Regions from separate parts of the Homo sapiens genome. Here region 2 is linked to region 1. A link means that fine-mapping ties the variant in region 1 to the expression of a gene that starts in the linked region. Tissue or cell type: monocytes after R848. Region 1 holds a variant in brackets; the other region holds the start of a gene. All regions are shown on one strand. Distances are from middle to middle.

Region 1 (8,341 bases):
AATTTATAACTTTATCATGATTGTGTGTGTGTGTGTGTGTGTGTGTGTGTGTGTGTGTGTTCTGGGAGGTAGGCAAGTTCATCATAAATTTTATTGAAAAGAACAAATAAGTAGAATATAAGGAAAACCCTCAAAAGCAGATCAGCGGAGGAGGGTTGTAGCCCTGCTAATTATTGAAATATAGTATTAAGCATTTCTAATTAAAACTCTGGGATTGGTGCTTAAAAGACAGACCAGTGCAGCTGAGTAGAGAATAAAGAAATAGATGCAGTTGCACATGGAATTTAAGTATATAATAAAGGAAGACAATATTAGATTTATTCTTTATGTTATGTGAAGGATAAATTACAAATGAATTATACACTTAATGTATAAAAATGAAACTATGCAAGTCTTGAATTCCTCTGAACCCGGAAGTGGAATAAACACCCTAACTATAACTCAAAATCCAGATTATAATATGGGAAATAAAATTTGATGGTAAAAGTACTAACTTTTATATGGCTAAAAATACAAGTTAAGTAAAAAAAGAAGTGACAAATTGGACAAGAGTATTTGCGATTTCTATCACAAAGGGTTAATATCCCTAAAAAATCGATAAGACTGTCAACTCAACAAGAAAGTGGGCGATACATGAACAGATAGTTTACAGAAAAATAATTGCAAATGACTCTTACACGTAGAAAAAGACGCCTAACCTTTCAACTGGTAAGAAATACGCAGACACTTTACTGAAATGTCATTTCTTACTGATTATATTGACAGTACTTAAAAAGTTCGACAAGCTGTTCTCTTGATGATGCTGTGGAGGGAAGGGAAGAAGCAGGACTCTCAGACATTGCTGGAGGAAATGCTAAATGGTGTAAATACTAGGGAAGAGAATTTGGCACTATTTAGAAAAATTACATTTATGTTTACCCTTTGGCCCAGCAGCTCTACTTCGAGGGATTTGTCTCAGTGTTACACCAGCAAAAATAAGAATAGACACAAACACACACTAGGCTGTTTATCACAGCACTGTTTGAAATAGCAAAAGGTAGAAACAATCCAAATGTTGGTTAGTACAGGATTTGTTGAATAACTTTTACTGTATCTACACCTGTAAAAAGGAATGAGGAATATCTCTTTATACTGCTATGGGGTGATCTTCATTGAAAAAAAGCAAGGTACAGACAAGTGAGTATAGTATATATCATTTATCAAAGAAAGAGGTGGCAGTGCTAATATTTAAGAAATTAGAAAGGATAAAATAAAACTTTAAAAACAACAATAGTTGGTTATCTACAGAGTAATGGAGGGAACCGTGTGGGGGAGAAACTGGAAGCTGGACTTCTGAATATATCTTGTTTTGTCTCTTTGACTTTGGGACAATATACATATCTTGCACAATTTTAAAACAAAATTAAAGTGTAAAAGAGCCCTAAAGATTGAAACGAGACAGGTGATTCTAATTCATTTTTTTCTCTCTCTTTTTCTCTCTCTCAATTTGCTTACATAACCATACAGAGAGGCACTATTTCAAATGTCAGATGTTTGATTATATGGCCCTAATAGATTATAACTGAAGGATAAAGCGTCTCCAAAAGTATAATCCTCAACTGTTAGAGTAATCGTATTATGCTTGTTATGTTGGTATTGTTATTCTAAGGCTTTTGTGTGTATTTTATGGGATAAAGCAAATGACTGGTTAAGATAATATCATTGGAAACTTGGACTTTTAGTGTAGTTTAAAGGAGAAACAGGTAAAAGTTTCTAAGGTTAGGAACGACCCTGTGATGGTAAATTTTCTAGCTCTTTCCCCTGGCAATGCCTGGAAACAAGGACCAATCCAGTCGCAGTAAGCACCCCTAGAACCCAGACTGTCTCTAAATATCAGTTCCCACTAAAGTAAATGAAGGCTCCTTGGAGAGTAGCTACTTGCAGGCCTAGGGCAGGAGATGTGCAGATGAGCTTTTAATATCTTGTCAGTTCAGAAAGCAAGGAAGCTGTCAGAAACTCCTGAGGGCATCTTAAAGGACTCAGGAGCCAGAGATGAGATAGTTTGAGGATCACTAAGGATAATAAGGATAATATATTTAATATATTTCAATACATTAAATATATTTGAATCCTAAGTTCACAGTAATACTAAAGAAAAAAAATTAATAATAATTGGTTAGCTTTAGAGGGTGCTAAGAAATTAACTCATTTTGAAAACGTAATAAATGGAAAGACTCAAGCATTTTTCTCTACCTCTTCTGCTATATGAACCGTAGCTCTGAGTAACCAAGTAATTGATGAGAAGTTTCTCATTATTAGCATATCACAGTTGTTAAAAGATAGAAGAATCATAGAACATCACTGTATTGCCATTTTGCAATCTCTGGTAAAATAGTATAGCCAGTGATCATTAATAGCTGCTAACATCACAAAAAGAGAGATAACCAGATATTACATGTTTCCCACTGTGAAGTAGTCTTGCCAGAAAATTGAACCAAATATGTTCAAGCCTGTAGCTCTATCATTTTCCAGGAAATACAGGGGAAAATATAACGTGTTCAATGACACCATGAGAAGTATATCAGCAAAAGCTAGACTGAGGAATTCTGTATGCCAGTTTCTTCAACCAATAAATTTCAGGGTGGTAGGGAAGAGCCCGGGGGAGGAAGGTGGGGGAACCTATAGCATACAAGAGATTTGAGACCAGTGCCAATGTATGGACCTAATTTTAATTATGATTCAAGCAAACAAAACACATGCGGACATTTGAAAACTGGCTGGATATTTAATGATATTATGGATTTTTTTTTTTTTTTTTTTTTTTTGAGACATGGTCTCACTCTGTTGCCCAGCCTGGAGTATAATGGCGCGATCTCTGCTCACTACAGCCTCAGCCTCCTGGGCTCAGGGTGATTCTCCCACCTAAGCCTCTTGAGTAGCTGGGACCACAGGCATGCGCCACCATGCCTGGTTAGTTTTTTGTATTTTTTTAGAGACAGGGTCTCCCTGTGTTGCCCACGCTGGTTTTGAACTCCTGGGCTCAAGTGATTCTCCTGCCTCGACCTCCCAAAGTGCTAGGATTACAGGCATAAGCCACCGCACCCAGCATAGGAATTATTAATTTTAAAGGTTTAATAATATTTTGGTTATATTTTGATTATTAAAAAAAAAAAATCTCACCTATAAGAGATGTGAGATGAAATACTTACGAATAAAATGACAGTATCTCTGGGATTAGCTTCAGAATAACCCTGGTTGAGGTTGAGAGGGTAGGGAGGGGTATAACTGAAACAAGATCGGTCATGAATCACTTGGCAGTTGTATAAGTGAGGTAAAAGGTATATGTGGCTTCATTGCCTTTCCTTACCACTTTTGTATAATTCAAAATTTATTTTTTATATATAAATTTTTTTAATATATTTTTTAAAGGTTGTGCATAGTGCTTTCAGGATATAATTTGAGATGAGAAACTAGTACCAGATGAATTGGAATGTTGATATTATTAAGAGAATATTTGATACAATACCATCTATAAAGCTGTATTATGTCACTGTTTCTGGCAACCATTTTGCCAGATTTTAAGTACCTAATATGGTGCTTAGAAAATAAAGACTATGAATAAAAGAGGTGAGTATGTTACAGTGCTTATACAGAAGGATAGAGGAACAGTTAATGTGAAGGAAGCTGGGCTTTTTGTTTTTCTGGCAGCTACTTTCTTTTCCTTTTCTTTTCCCCTTTTTCCTTTGCCATGTGTGGTGGTAGAGTCTCCCCTCCAGGTATTGGCCACTGGATAACCTCTTTTAGCACCCTATGTAGCTGTCTTTCTCTGTGCTTGATTCATTCTGTATCAGGTTAAACTATTGTGGAGGAAAGAGGATGAGTCTACAGTACCTATTAGGGATTGTTAGACAGAAAAATAGAGAAATTAGAGGTGACTGAATGAGTCCCCCACAGCCATTATTATGCGTCATCTGGAGCAATGGTGAATCAAGTGTTAAAAAGGGAAAGAAAGAAGGGAAGTGCAAGTAGAGAATGAATAACATGGTCTGGGGAGGACTTGTCTAATTCCAGAGACTAGCCCTGGCAAGGACTTCCAGGGTATCCTAATGTGATTTAGTAGGCACAGATGTCACTCATACAAATGTTGGTATTGAGTGGTCCAGTCTAGTGCTTGTAAAATAGTATCAAAAGAGTTTAGGCAGTGGGCAGGACACCAGAGTCTGGAAGAGCTGTGTTGTGATTCTAGAAGGTCTAGCCTTTCATAGCATCACTTTTGCCACTAATGACAGATGTGGGGATCAGGAAGAGGGCTAACAAGTATTTACTTGAGAACACTAGCCAAATGAGCTGGGGAGTTTGGGACAAGCAAGGCCTCACTTCTTTGAGGGAGTCTGGGGTGTAAGGAAAGGCAAGAAAAATTGCTGTGGGTTGAGCCACTATGGAGGTTAGGAGGTATGGTGCAGTGAGGTTATCCAAATGAACATTACTGGTCCTTGATAGACCCAACCAAGTCTGTTTGGGCATATTACTTAATTCTGTTCCTCAGTGGGGAATATGTCTGAGTTTGTTCATGTTTGTGCTTCCCATAATGACTAACATCGTAATTGGAATAGAACTGCAGTGCTGTAAGTGGTCAGTTAGTAAAGGTAATGGCAGAGGGGAAAGTAAGCCAAAAGCAGGGTACATGACAGGGATCCAAGAAGGCTTTGCAGATGAGGTAGTATTTGAACTGGTCCTTGTAGAATAAATGGGCTTTTTAAAAATAATGAGAAGGACATTCCAGCTAGAAAAACATGGGTAAACTCTTGGAAGAAAGATGTCACTGAGACATACTTTTGCAACAGCAGGTAGGTCTGGCTGCATTGGGGACATAATGGCTGTAAGATCAGATAGATTATTGGAAGGATCTTGAATGCCAATCTGCAGTTTATCAGTCTGTGAGGGTCCTTATCCTAAAGCCAAAATAGATCCACATTCATGGTTTCTTAATAGGAAGTGGTTTCTTTTCTTTTCTTTTTTTTTTTTTTTTTTTTTT[C/T]TGAGACAGAGTCTCACTCTGTCACCCAGGCTGTAGTGCAGTGGCCCGATCTTGCTCACTGCAACCTCCACCTCCCAGGTTCACGTGAGTCTTGTGCCTCAGCCTCCCAAGTAGCTGGGACTACAGGCGAGCACCACCATGCCCAGCTAATTTTTATGTTTTTAGTAGAGACAAGGTTTCACCATGTTGGCTGGTCTCGAATTTCTGACCTCAAGTGATCTGCCCACCTTGGCCTCCCAAAGTGCCGGGATTATAGGCGTGAGCCACTGTGCCTGGGCAGGAAGTGGTTTCTACATACTTTTCTGAGCCCTATTAGTAGCATTGCGTTGAAAGGAACAGACCCTAAGAGTAACCTGGTATGAGGAGATAACTGTAGGCAATTTAAAGTAGCCTCCTTTTCCTGCTCTCATTTGAAAAGCCAACACTGAGAACTCCTAATCAATGTGATAATCTAAACAGATGGGGTAAAGCATCTGCTCTCTATCGGATATAATATTATAAGTAAATCTTTTCAATGTTAAGTGGTGCTGGAATGCAGAGAAAGGAAATCACCAAGTGTCCCCACATCTGGAGTGGTGAATGGGAGTTGAGGCCATGTGCACCACTAGGGCTGAGCTGGAAGGCTGGAGTTGCTGACTTTTTTTTTTTTTTTTGGTGGCGGGGTGGGTGGAAGGAGCAAGGAAGGGAAATCAAGAATCAGATTAAAATTTGAATATGGTAAGATTTGAAATGCATATGAGGCATTCAAGGGAAGGTGTTCAATAGATAACTGATTATAGGAGTTGAAGTTCAGGAGTGAAGTCTGACTTGGAGACAGAAATTTGAGAGTCATCAGCATGTGGATGGAATTTAATGCCATGTGATAACAGGCAAAATGATTTTGAATCTATATGGAATAAGAATGCCTACTCCCCTAAAGAGTCCTCCTGAGGGTCAAATTTATAGAACTTGCATTTTCTGGGAACCCACAGATAGAAGTGAAGTTGTCCTGGGCTGATCGCCTCCCTGGGTTACCTGGTAGAAGCCATTATTCTGGAAGAATACAGCTTCTAATCCAAACCATACAGAATTTGCAGATAAAGTCTCACCAAAAGTCACAATCCCACATTTAATAACGTATGTGGAAGAAGTCTTTTAGGAGTGAAGTCAGTAGGCATAACAAGCAGCAGGACTGGATCCCAAGAACTTCAGTTAATTGGAATTACAAAAGTCCAGGCAGATTTGAAAAGGATAAACAGAACTTCTAGTAATGAAAAATATAGTCTCTCAAATTAAAACCCCCCAAACCTCAAGGGTGGGCTGAAGTGTGATTAGACAGGACTGAATGAAGAATTTGTGAACAGAAGGACGACTAGAGGAAGTTAGGTTGCATGTAGCACATAGAGACAGCACTGGAAAATATGAAAGAGAAGTTGACATATGAAGGGTAAAATGAAAATTATTCAATAACCCAATAGGAATTTCAGAAGAAGAAAAAAAGAGGGAAATGGGAAGAGGTAATTTTCAAAGAAAAACATGGCAGAGAATTTTCTAGAATTTAAGAAAGATATGTGTAATGTAAATGAAAGAGCCAGTACCCCATTGGAAAGCATTTAGAGCAATTGGCTCTGCATGGCTGCTGCTATCTTTTAAAATAATTGTCAGTATCTAAGAAAGTTTTACCTTTATAAATAATGTAATCAGTTGGAATGTGTTTTTAGGTTTCTTTTCTCTGATGAATTACAGAGCTTTGGCTATTTCCATATTCGATATGACAGGGTGTTGGTGTCATTAAATAATGATTCAGACACAGAACAGTCTTTTAGGGATTATTTTAAAAAGATTAACTTTCTTCACACTTTGAGAATTTATAGGTAAGCAGATGAGGGGATTCTTGGGCCACATTTATCTTTCAGACTTCCAGCTCACTGGCAATCTAATAAGTTATTCACACCCGTTAGAATATGAGCAGTAAGATAAAGAGCCAGCAGACATATGGTCTCATTATTCTGTTCTTTTTTCCTTTTGATTACAATATGCTATTTTCATGTAGGACAGGCCAGGATGTATTTTAAGTCCCTGGAGCATGTTTCCCTGAAGGTTGCTCTTAAAATTCTGTGTTCTGCCAACTGAAGGGAAATTTGTTTTTGCCAAAACACAGTAAATAATTGAGAGCAATCTTAATCCTTGGTTCTTAGTGGTTCACTGGCTTCTTTTTGAAGCTCATCACCTTTGTGATTTGTGATCTTTTGAGTATAATTGGCTGCTTTTCATTAACACTTATTTACTGTATACATGGGTGTCAATATATGTTTAAGTATGCCTGGTTCTTGGTACATTTATGATAACTTGCTCCATTCATTTTATATTAAAAACAAATTTATATTCTGACAGCATACTTTTCATATATTTTTTCTCTTATTAACTGTTTTTTGTTTGTTTGATTTTTGAGATCTTTTTAAATGTATGGTCACCATAAAACAATGAGTTTAAACCTTTATGCATTAAGAAAATTGATATTTTTCATGAAAAATGATAGTGTTGCATCGAATTATGAATCTAGTTTACTTCTAAGCGAAGACTAGATAAGTATTTGAGAACATTCAATGGACAGCAGTTCAGTCTTAAAAACCATTAAGTTTTTTCAAAGATCTGAGACTGATTCACAGCTTCTTTTACTAATGGTGTGTGTGTGTGTGTGTGTGTGTGTGTGTGTGTGTGCACTTGCATGCGCGCAGCGTTTTACACCAAGGAGGTAAGGGTGCAAAGAAAAAACTCTGGCCCAGGAATCATGGTTTTTCCTTTGGGGTTCCTCCTCTGCCATGAACTACCTGGGAGTGAGTTGAACTAGCTGAAATCTAAGGTACGGAATATCCTGGATTTATAATTCTATGATAACTCATTTTTATTTTCTTTTTTTAAGTAACTGAAATATGCAGTATTATAGCATATAAATTATTTCCGTCTTTGTTGAACTCATGATTCTAAGAAAATAAGTTTTATAATGACTATTAGAGTACTTCATTTCAGTCTGAGGATTGACTAAAACCTTATATATCATAAAATTAGTACAGAAAATGCTCTGAAAGTGCTAGGTAACACCCACAATTTCAAAATCTTTTGAAAGGTCAATTGAGCTATCATTTGGCATTTTTATTACAAGTTTTTTATTTGGAGGGGGCATGTGCTTCAGATATTTTCAGTTTAAACTGCACCTAGTTTATTTTTTCATCAATTGAACTGTCAAATCTGTTAAAATAACAGAAAGGAAAAAAAATTCTTGTTCTCCTTTTGTAAGAGAATATTTGAGGTTATGAAAAACCTTGTTTTTTTTCCTCAGAATATTTG
Region 2 (8,341 bases), 19 kb before region 1:
CCTAGCTTGAAAGCAATACCCAGTGTGATGGTTAATACTGAGTGTCAACTTGACTGGATTGAAGGATACAAAGTATTGATCCTAGGTGTGTCTGTGAGGGTGCTGCCAAAGGAGGATTAACATTTTGAGTCAGTGGGCTGGGAAAGGCAGGCCCACCCTTAATCTGGATGAGCACAATCTAATCAGCTGCCAGCATGGCTAGAATACAAGCAGGCAGAAAAATGTGAAAAGGGAGACTGGCCTAGCCTACATCTTTCTCCCGTGCTGGATGCTTCCCGACTTGAACACTGGACTCCAAGTTCTTCAGTTTTGGAACTCAGACTGGCTCTCCTCGCTCCTCAGCCTGCAAACGGCCTATTGCGGGATCTTGGGTTCACGTGAGTTAATGCTTAATAAACTTCCCTTTATATATATATTCCATTAGTTCTGTCCCTCTAGAGAACCCTGCTAAATACACTCAGTGTATAGTACCACATGCTGAGGCTGTACCTCAAACTCAACATGTCCACAACACACCCATCATAAACTGTTTCTTCCTCCTGTATTCTCTTTCTGGTGGACCACCAGGCCCCAATCACTAGATCAGAAGCCTAAAAGTCATTCTTGACTTCTTTTCTCACTACACACATCTAATCAATAACCAAGACCTCCTGATTTTACTCCCTCACTCAGACCTACAGCATCTCTTGCTTGGATGCCTGCCACGGCTTCCTAGTCTGTCTCCATGCCTCTGGTCTTTTTAACTCTAGCCAGCAATCCCCAGGCCTTCTTCAGTCATCCTGCTGATTATCTCATTGCCCTTAGTTTAAAAATCTAAGATTTGCTTAACAGGCCCTTTAGGTCTGGTCCTAGTTTGTCCAGAATTGGTTCCTTCCCGTGGGTTCTTGGTCTCACTGACTTCAAGAATGAAGCCGCGGACCCTTGCGGTGAGTGTTACAGTTCTTAAAGATGGTGTGTACGGAGTTTGTTCGTTCAGATGTTCAGAGTTTCTTCCTTCTGGTGGGTTCGTGGTCTTGCTGACTTCAGGAGTGAAGCTGCAGACTTTCACAGTGAGTGTTACAGCTCTTAAAGGTGGCACGCAGGTTGTTCGTTCCTCCCGGTGGGTTCATGGTCTCGCTGACTTCAGGAATGAAGCCGCAGACCTTCGCAGGGAGTGTTACAGCTCATAAAGGTAGTGCGGACCCATAGAGTGAGCAGCAGCAAGATTTATTGTGAAGAGCGAAAAAACAAAGCTTCCACAGCCTGGAAGGTGACCGAGGGGGGTTGCCGCTGCTGGCTCTGGTGGCCAGCTTTTATTCCCTTATTTGGCCCCACCCACATCCTGCTGATTGGTCCATTTTACAAAGAGCTGATTGGTGGGTTTACAAACCTTTAGCTAGACACAGAGCGCCGATTGGTGCATTTACAATCCTTTAGCTAGACAGAAAAGTTCTCCAAGTCCCCATCCGACCCAGAAGCCCAGCGGCTTTACCTCTCACTAGCTTTTCTCTTTAGCTTCATCTCAAGTCTCTGGCCCCTACTTTATGTTCCAGAACACCAAACTTAATATGGGAACACACCATGTCTGTAATCAAGGACAACCCTGAGATTGTGTACATGCTACTTCCCCTACTTGGAATATCCTTACTTTCATTGCATGTGGTTATGTCTTCCTGATCCTTTAGGCCTCAGTAGATACTTTCACTGTTTCCTGAGGTATTCTCTAACCCATTCAAGTGTATACTCCTAAACTACCTTGAACTTTCCCATCTAAGTCATATCGTCATATGTCAAACTATGTCATGTTGTCATACCATCTTTGTCTCTTTGCTAATTTGTCTCTTCCACTGTACAGCATGTTCTAGGGGAGAAGGAACCAGATGCAGCTTGCACTTATAAATCCACAATGCCTGGCACATAGTAGGCGCTCACTAAATATTCGTTGAATTAATCACTTACAGTTGAACATTCCCCTTCCTTAAGGCCAAAGAGACTGTCTCTTTCCATTGCCCATGACCCCCTAAAACTACAATGAAATTTTATGACTTCTTAAAACTTTTCTTATTGCTGTTTTTATGTATTTGTACAAAACCAGACAAATACAAATATCTAGAGGGGCTCATGTATTTAACTAGATATGCAAATCCAGTGTGAGTAGTGGAAGCTGTGGTAACCTGGCCAGCACCCTCTGTAAAGGTGGTGTTCACTAGTAACCGCAATCCAGATCCCATGAAAAAATAAGGGCCCAATGTCACCATGTGTTCTGAGGTTTTAAAAGAAGCTGAAATGATTCTGGATTTTGAAATGTTGGCTTGGCAGGGCGTGGTGGCTTACACCTGTAATCCCAGCACTTTGGGCAGCTTAGGGGGGTGGATCACCTGAGATAACGAGTTCGAGACCAGCCTGGCCAACATGGTGAAACCCAGTCTCTACTAAAAATACAAAAATTAACTGGGTGTGGTGACATGCGCCTGTAATCCCAGCTACTTGGGAGGCTGAGGCAGGAAAATCGCTTGAACCAAGGAGGCAGAAGTTGCAGTGAGCTGAGATCACGCCACTGCACTCCAGCCTGGGCAACAAGAGCAAAACGTGTCAAAAAAAAAAAAAAAAAAAAAAAAAGGTTGGCTCAAATTTTTCATGAACATTGAGTGCAGCAAAAAAAAAACATGCCTGTCCACCAAGCTGTCTGTGGGCCATGTTTGGTTTGAGAATCCTAGTTTATTCTCGGGTCCCTTAAGGCTCTCTTTGATGCTCATTCTGATGACATTACACTAAGATTTACTGATTGAGGGTACGGACACTTCTCCATACACACTTGCCCAGGAACGATCTCCAGTTACCTGTCCTGTCTCCAAGATCTTCTCTCTCTCATCCAATCTTGCCTATGCAGCATTCTATTTTCAGAGTCGTCTTTGCTAATTTGGGGAAGTCACTTATTCAAACAAGAAAGTGGTTGACAAATGTTTAGCAATGAAATCTCCCGCGAGTTACTACTTTTTAATTAGGATTTTCAACCCTAAGAAAGATATAGATAGGAGGAATAAGATAGGGGGAATAAGGAAACTAATTTTGAGGGGTTTCCCTGCCTCTTAGGTGGGGTTTATCATATTGTGCTGAAACTGCTTATTCGTCTAGTTCTCCAGACCCTGGGCCATTTATCTTACGTATCCCTATCTCTGAGCGTGTAGAAGGCGCTCCATAAAACTGTTGGTTTGTGTAAATGACCGAAAACTACATGCAGCGTGAGGGTGGATTTCCCTTTGACTTCGGCTTAAGGAAGAATCGTTCCCATGATCATCCCACAATTCATCTAAACGGAGATAGGCAAGGAGCAACTGCTCAAAGGCAAAGCGCTGGCAGCTGAGGCACAGCTCCGGTTCGGCAAACGTCTCCCGAGTGCCAAACGTCCCCCCAAACGCCTAACTGGTCGTCAGGGCGCAGAAAAGAAGCTTGGGGGGCGCGGTCTTCGCCCCAGCTCCACTTCGGTGCTTCACGATTCCTTCTCTGGCCTGCCTTCCTGATAAATACCCGGTGAGGTCACCTAAACGCTCTCCTCTCTCAGTTATTTGCTTCTTTCCAACGTTTGGCGCCCAGCTCCCGCCATCGGAGCGCCCCGCCCGAGACCACTGATCTCCTGGGGCCTCGCAGCCTTGCTTCCGAACGCCAAGGTCGCGGTGCGCCGGGGTAGCGAACGGCCAGGCCCGAAACCCCGCCCCGCAGCTAAACGCCCGGCCCGCTACCCTGCGCCCAGCTCCAGCCGCCGGGTCCCGCCTGGGCCTCTCCTCCTGGGAATACCGGGCACCGGTGGCCCCGCCCCTACCTGCGCGCCGCATCTCCGGGAACAACAGTCTCCCTCCCGAGCATCACAGCCAGACATGGCCCAGACCAGGGACCCGCGCGGCCTCCAATCTCCGCACGGCTTTGCGCGCGGCGCTTAGCCTGGGATACGGCAGCGAGGCCGCAAATGCAATCAGGCGGCGCTGAGGGCAGCCCGGGGGCGGGGCGAACGGGGCGGGGGCCGGGGTCTGGTAAGGCCCCGCCGGCTGAGATATCCAGCGGCGCACCTGACTTCCCGGGAGGCAAGGCCAACGTGGTTGGAGGCGGGGCTGGGTTGGGGGGCGGGGGTTCAAGTCTGAGAGACCTAAAGGCACCGCTAGCGTCTGGGGGCGTGGCCAACCATGCGGGAGGCGGGGCCTTGATGCTGGACATCAGGCTGTGCTGCGGGCAGCCAGTGAGAAGGCCGTCAAGATGGCGGCCTCCTGGAGGCTGGGCTGTGATCCGCGGCTGCTGCGTTATCTTGTGGGCTTCCCCGGCCGCCGAAGCGTAGGGCTGGTGAAGGGGGCTCTTGGGTGGTCTGTAAGCCGCGGAGCTAATTGGAGATGGTTTCACAGCACGCAGTGGCTTCGGGGTGAGTGGCCGGGGCTCGCTCAGCTTCTCTGTGTAGCTGAGTGATGGGCCTGGGACAGGGGCAGTTATGATTGAGGGCCTGCTTTTGGGTGTGAAGGTGCGCGGGCTCCTTATTCCCTTTCCTCTTTCTCCGGTTGGGGTCCGCCGACTTGGCCTAATGCATGCTGTGAAGGGCTTTCTTGGCAGCTGAGAGAACTCGACTCTGCCCTAGGCCCCCTGGTTTGTATGGCTTTGTGACCTTGCCTTGGAATTTGGGTTATTTGTGAGGCGCAGAGAGGGTTCCCAAACTCTCCTCCCTCAGCCCCCTTTCCAATCAAGGCTCAGGTTTCTTTAGGGTTGTCAAACGTCTCGGACGAGAAAAAGCTGCCCAAGGTTGCCGAGATTGAAAAGCCACTGTTGGGAGTTCTTACTTATTCTCTAGGCCTCTCTCTGTTAGGAGGTGTTTTCATTGAGGCCAGTCGAGTTTTACCCCACGCCATGACTCGTGGAAGACTTAAATTTGTAAATTCCTACGGCATCACGATAGACAAAGGTCCAGGAGAATGTTTCAAGCAAATATTCGCTTGAAAGAGCAAACATTTAGGAGATAAATCATACCAAAAATTTATTATAGAAAATTGTTGTTTAGTAATGATATTGATGCAGTTAACACAATTCTTGCAGTATTTAACAGTATGCAAAATGGCAGGCCGGGTATTATTTTTCCTTATTTTGGGAGAAGGTTGGAGGGAGGCGGGGATGGAGAATAGGACTGACGTTTTTTAGTGTGACGTATTACCTGCCAATCATCGTTCCTGGCACTCTACAGAATGAATTTTAATTTAAATAGGTCTAGTAGACGTTGCCTTCATATTCTGAGCTACCTTAGGCTCAGAAAAAAAAAATCACACAAAGTCATATGGTAAGATGAGTGTATTGGGGTTCCTAAAGGTTCCTTAATGGGAACAATTTATTTCATTTTTGGTGTAATGTTTCATAACATATTCCTTGGAGCAGAGGTGCTTTAACAGTGTGTGCAGAATTCCTTCTCTTCCCTCCTCCAAGTTTGTTGAAATTAAACTTTTTTCCAGCTCCTAGAGATTCGGTCTGGTCTGGTGTGGGGCTCAGGAATCTGCATTTTACAAATGTTGGATGAGTTTTGATGTTTTATTTTGACATTTAATGGAATGAGCTTTGAGACTCACTGCCTTAGAAAATCATGGAATATTAAAAGTTTAGTATTGGATATAATCTAGGAAGAGTGCTCTTAATCTTGTTTATCAAGCAGATCCTTTTGAGAATCTTTGAAAATGTTACAGACTCTCTGTACAGAGGAAGTACCATAAATGGTCACACACAAAAATGTGCACGTAGTGGCTCACGCCTGTAATCCCAGCACTTTGGGAGGCGAAGCTGGAAGATTGCTAGAGCCCAGGAGTTGGAGACCAGCCCGGGCAACAAAGTGAGACCCCCGTCTCTACTTAAAAAAAAAAAAAGAAAGAAAAAAAGCCAGGCGTGCTGGCATCCCAGCTACTCCAGGGGCTGAGGCAGGAGGATCCGTTGAACCCAGGAGTTAGACGTTTCATTGAGCTATGATCCTGCCGCTGCACTTTAGCCTGGGTGACAGAGTGAGACCCTGTCTCAGGAGAAAAAAAAAAAAAAGTATACATAGGCCCAGTTTAATGCCTTTAGAAACTCAGTTAGGCAAGCAATCCTTATCTGCATCCTCATGATGCTTTTTTACCTATTCCCTATCCCCTAGACATATACCATGAACAACTTGTCTACCCCAGTTTGAATACCATCTGTCAGGAAGAAGGCATGGCATCTCAAGGAAAGCCAAATTAGTTTTCTAGTGCTGCTGCAACAAATTACCAGAAATTAGTGGCTTAAAACAACACAAATTCACATCTCATAGTTCTAGAGGTCCGAAGTCCAAAATGGATCTAACTAGGCTAAAATCAAGCTATTGGTAGGAGCTGCATTCTTTTCTGGAGGCTCGAGACCCCATTCCCTTAAGTTTTCCAGATTCTAGAGGTTTCTAAGATTCTTTGACTCATGGGCTTCAAAGTCAGCAATGGCTGGTTCAGTCTTTATCACATTACGTCACTCTTAATACTCCCCTCTGCCTTCTGCCACTTACAAGGACCCTTGTGATTACATTGGGCTCATCTGGATGATCCTGAATATTTTCCCCATCTCAAGGTTGAGTAGAAACCTTAATTCCATCTTTAACCTTAATTCCCTCTTGCCATGTAACAGCATATTCATAGGTTCTGGGTATTAGGACGTGAACCTTTTGAGGCATGGCATTCTGCATGTGAAGCTGTGGAAAGTATTTGGAAATACTAAGTATTTGGAAGTGTTGGACTTTTTTCCTAATACCGAGCCAAAATATATCCGCTTCTGACTTTCACCTACATACAGATTTTTGTTTTGCCATGCCGAAAACACGTGGCAATCCTTGAACTATTTGTTTTACAAACTGTGAATTTACGGTGGTGTTTTTTCTCTGAGCTTGGTAGAAACTGTAGTTTTATAAAACTAAACAACTATTTGGATTACTGTAAACTATATAAATTAAGTACATTTATTGAACTGTTTCGTCTTTCACACAAATATCTTTAAAAATTTGTCAGTCGGAACTACCTTTGGAGTTTTAATTTCCTTAAGAGGTGCTGGCAGCATTTTTATGAGCTATGACATATGCCATTTTCTTAGCACTTTCTAGAATTTCTCATTCACTTCTCACATAACCTAGTAAAGTTGGCATCATCTGCATTTAGTTGGACAAAAACACCAAGGCTTAGAGAAATTGAGTCTCCTAAAGACATGTAACTGTGTTGATGAACTGAAGTGCATGTATATATTTATATACATATATTAATTTGTTTAACAAATCTTTAATTTGTATCATTCTCTCAACAGATTTATTGAGAATGCAGAGACTATCTTTTTTACCACTTACATTATTGAAGAATGAGTGAAGAAATTAGCATCTATTAGGTGCCAGGCACATGGTACCCTGCTTGGGAAGTAGTGGCCAGCTGAATCAAACAGATTCTCAGTATTTGCCACATGGCACATTTAATCATACTTAGCTCCTGGACATGCAATCCAAAATTCTATATAGGGCTGATCCTTAAGGTATTTGTAGTCTCTTTGGGGACATAAACAATAAAGGTATGATTTCAATAGTGTATACAGTAAGCTCAGAGGGGGTAAGTTTGAAATGATCAGGAAATAATATATAAGGCAGCTTCTTAGAGGAAGAGGTGACAGCCCTTACAGGCTGAAGGAACAGCAGAAACAAAGACCCAGAGACCAGAGTGATCATTATATAATTGACACAGCATCTGTAAACAGTTTTTCAACCTACTCTAGACAGTTAACTTCAGAGAGTTTAAATTGTGGTCCTTTCAGAGTAGGTAGCATGATTTGGAATATAATTGGTAAGATGTTAATTAATAGTATTGGTTTTAAGTTGTCTCTGAAGAATAACATGTTGAATTTAAAATAACCTGTGAATAGAAAAGTAACTGAGGTTCAATCTTGGTGGCGATTTGCCTAGTATATAATTATAGGCAATACATATTATAGATGTTCAATAAACATATCTAAGGAAGCTAGTAATCTAGGAAGTTATAAAAGAACACTAGAGCCTACAGTAGGATTCCAAGTTGGCAGCCAGGGAACTGACCCACATTGTTTTAGCAGAAAAACTTATGGCAAAATTTTAAAATCAGGAGACTTTACAGAGAAATCTAGATTTTTGTTCTCTCTTTAAAATTGATAGTTAAATCCTATGTGGTGACAATTATCTAACACTGAGTAATGATTGTTCTTTTTAGGTAGGAAATTGCTTCCTACTTTGTCACTATGCCGCCTACTCTGTATTACATCTTAGCAAGGCTGAATGTCCCTTGGTATTTGCATCACCTCTAGTTGTCATTTTTTTTTCTTGTACTCTTATCTC

Which allele goes with the higher level. Alleles are on the strand shown, and positions count from the first base shown. SD is a standard deviation of normalised expression in the study named.
For the expression in monocytes after R848 of the gene that starts at base 3,951 in region 2, C is the high allele of the variant in region 1 and T is the other (large effect, 1.0 SD a copy in Quach 2016).

Evidence for each region.
Region 2: it holds the start of APIP, and the variant in region 1 is fine-mapped to the expression of APIP in monocytes after R848 (Quach 2016, PIP 0.95). The same link has a PIP of 0.9 or more in monocytes, monocytes after LPS and monocytes after Pam3CSK4.

The regions. Positions count from the first base shown.
Region 1 is chr11:34,931,792-34,940,132 of GRCh38, forward strand. The region is part of intron 2 of PDHX (pyruvate dehydrogenase complex component X); the gene reads left to right. Among named protein-coding and RNA genes, the nearest start is that of MIR1343, 5.9 kb to the right of the region's middle. The variant C/T (reference allele first, on the strand shown) is at 5,015.
Region 2 is chr11:34,912,429-34,920,769 of GRCh38, forward strand. APIP (APAF1 interacting protein) reads right to left here and starts at 3,951. Exons shown (of 7, transcript NM_015957.4): 1 at 3,800-3,951. The coding sequence starts at 3,856. It overlaps PDHX (pyruvate dehydrogenase complex component X), which reads left to right and starts at 4,190. Exons shown (of 11, transcript NM_003477.3): 1 at 4,190-4,387. The coding sequence starts at 4,228. RefSeq lists silencers at 3,612-3,951, 3,972-4,021 and an enhancer at 4,192-4,491.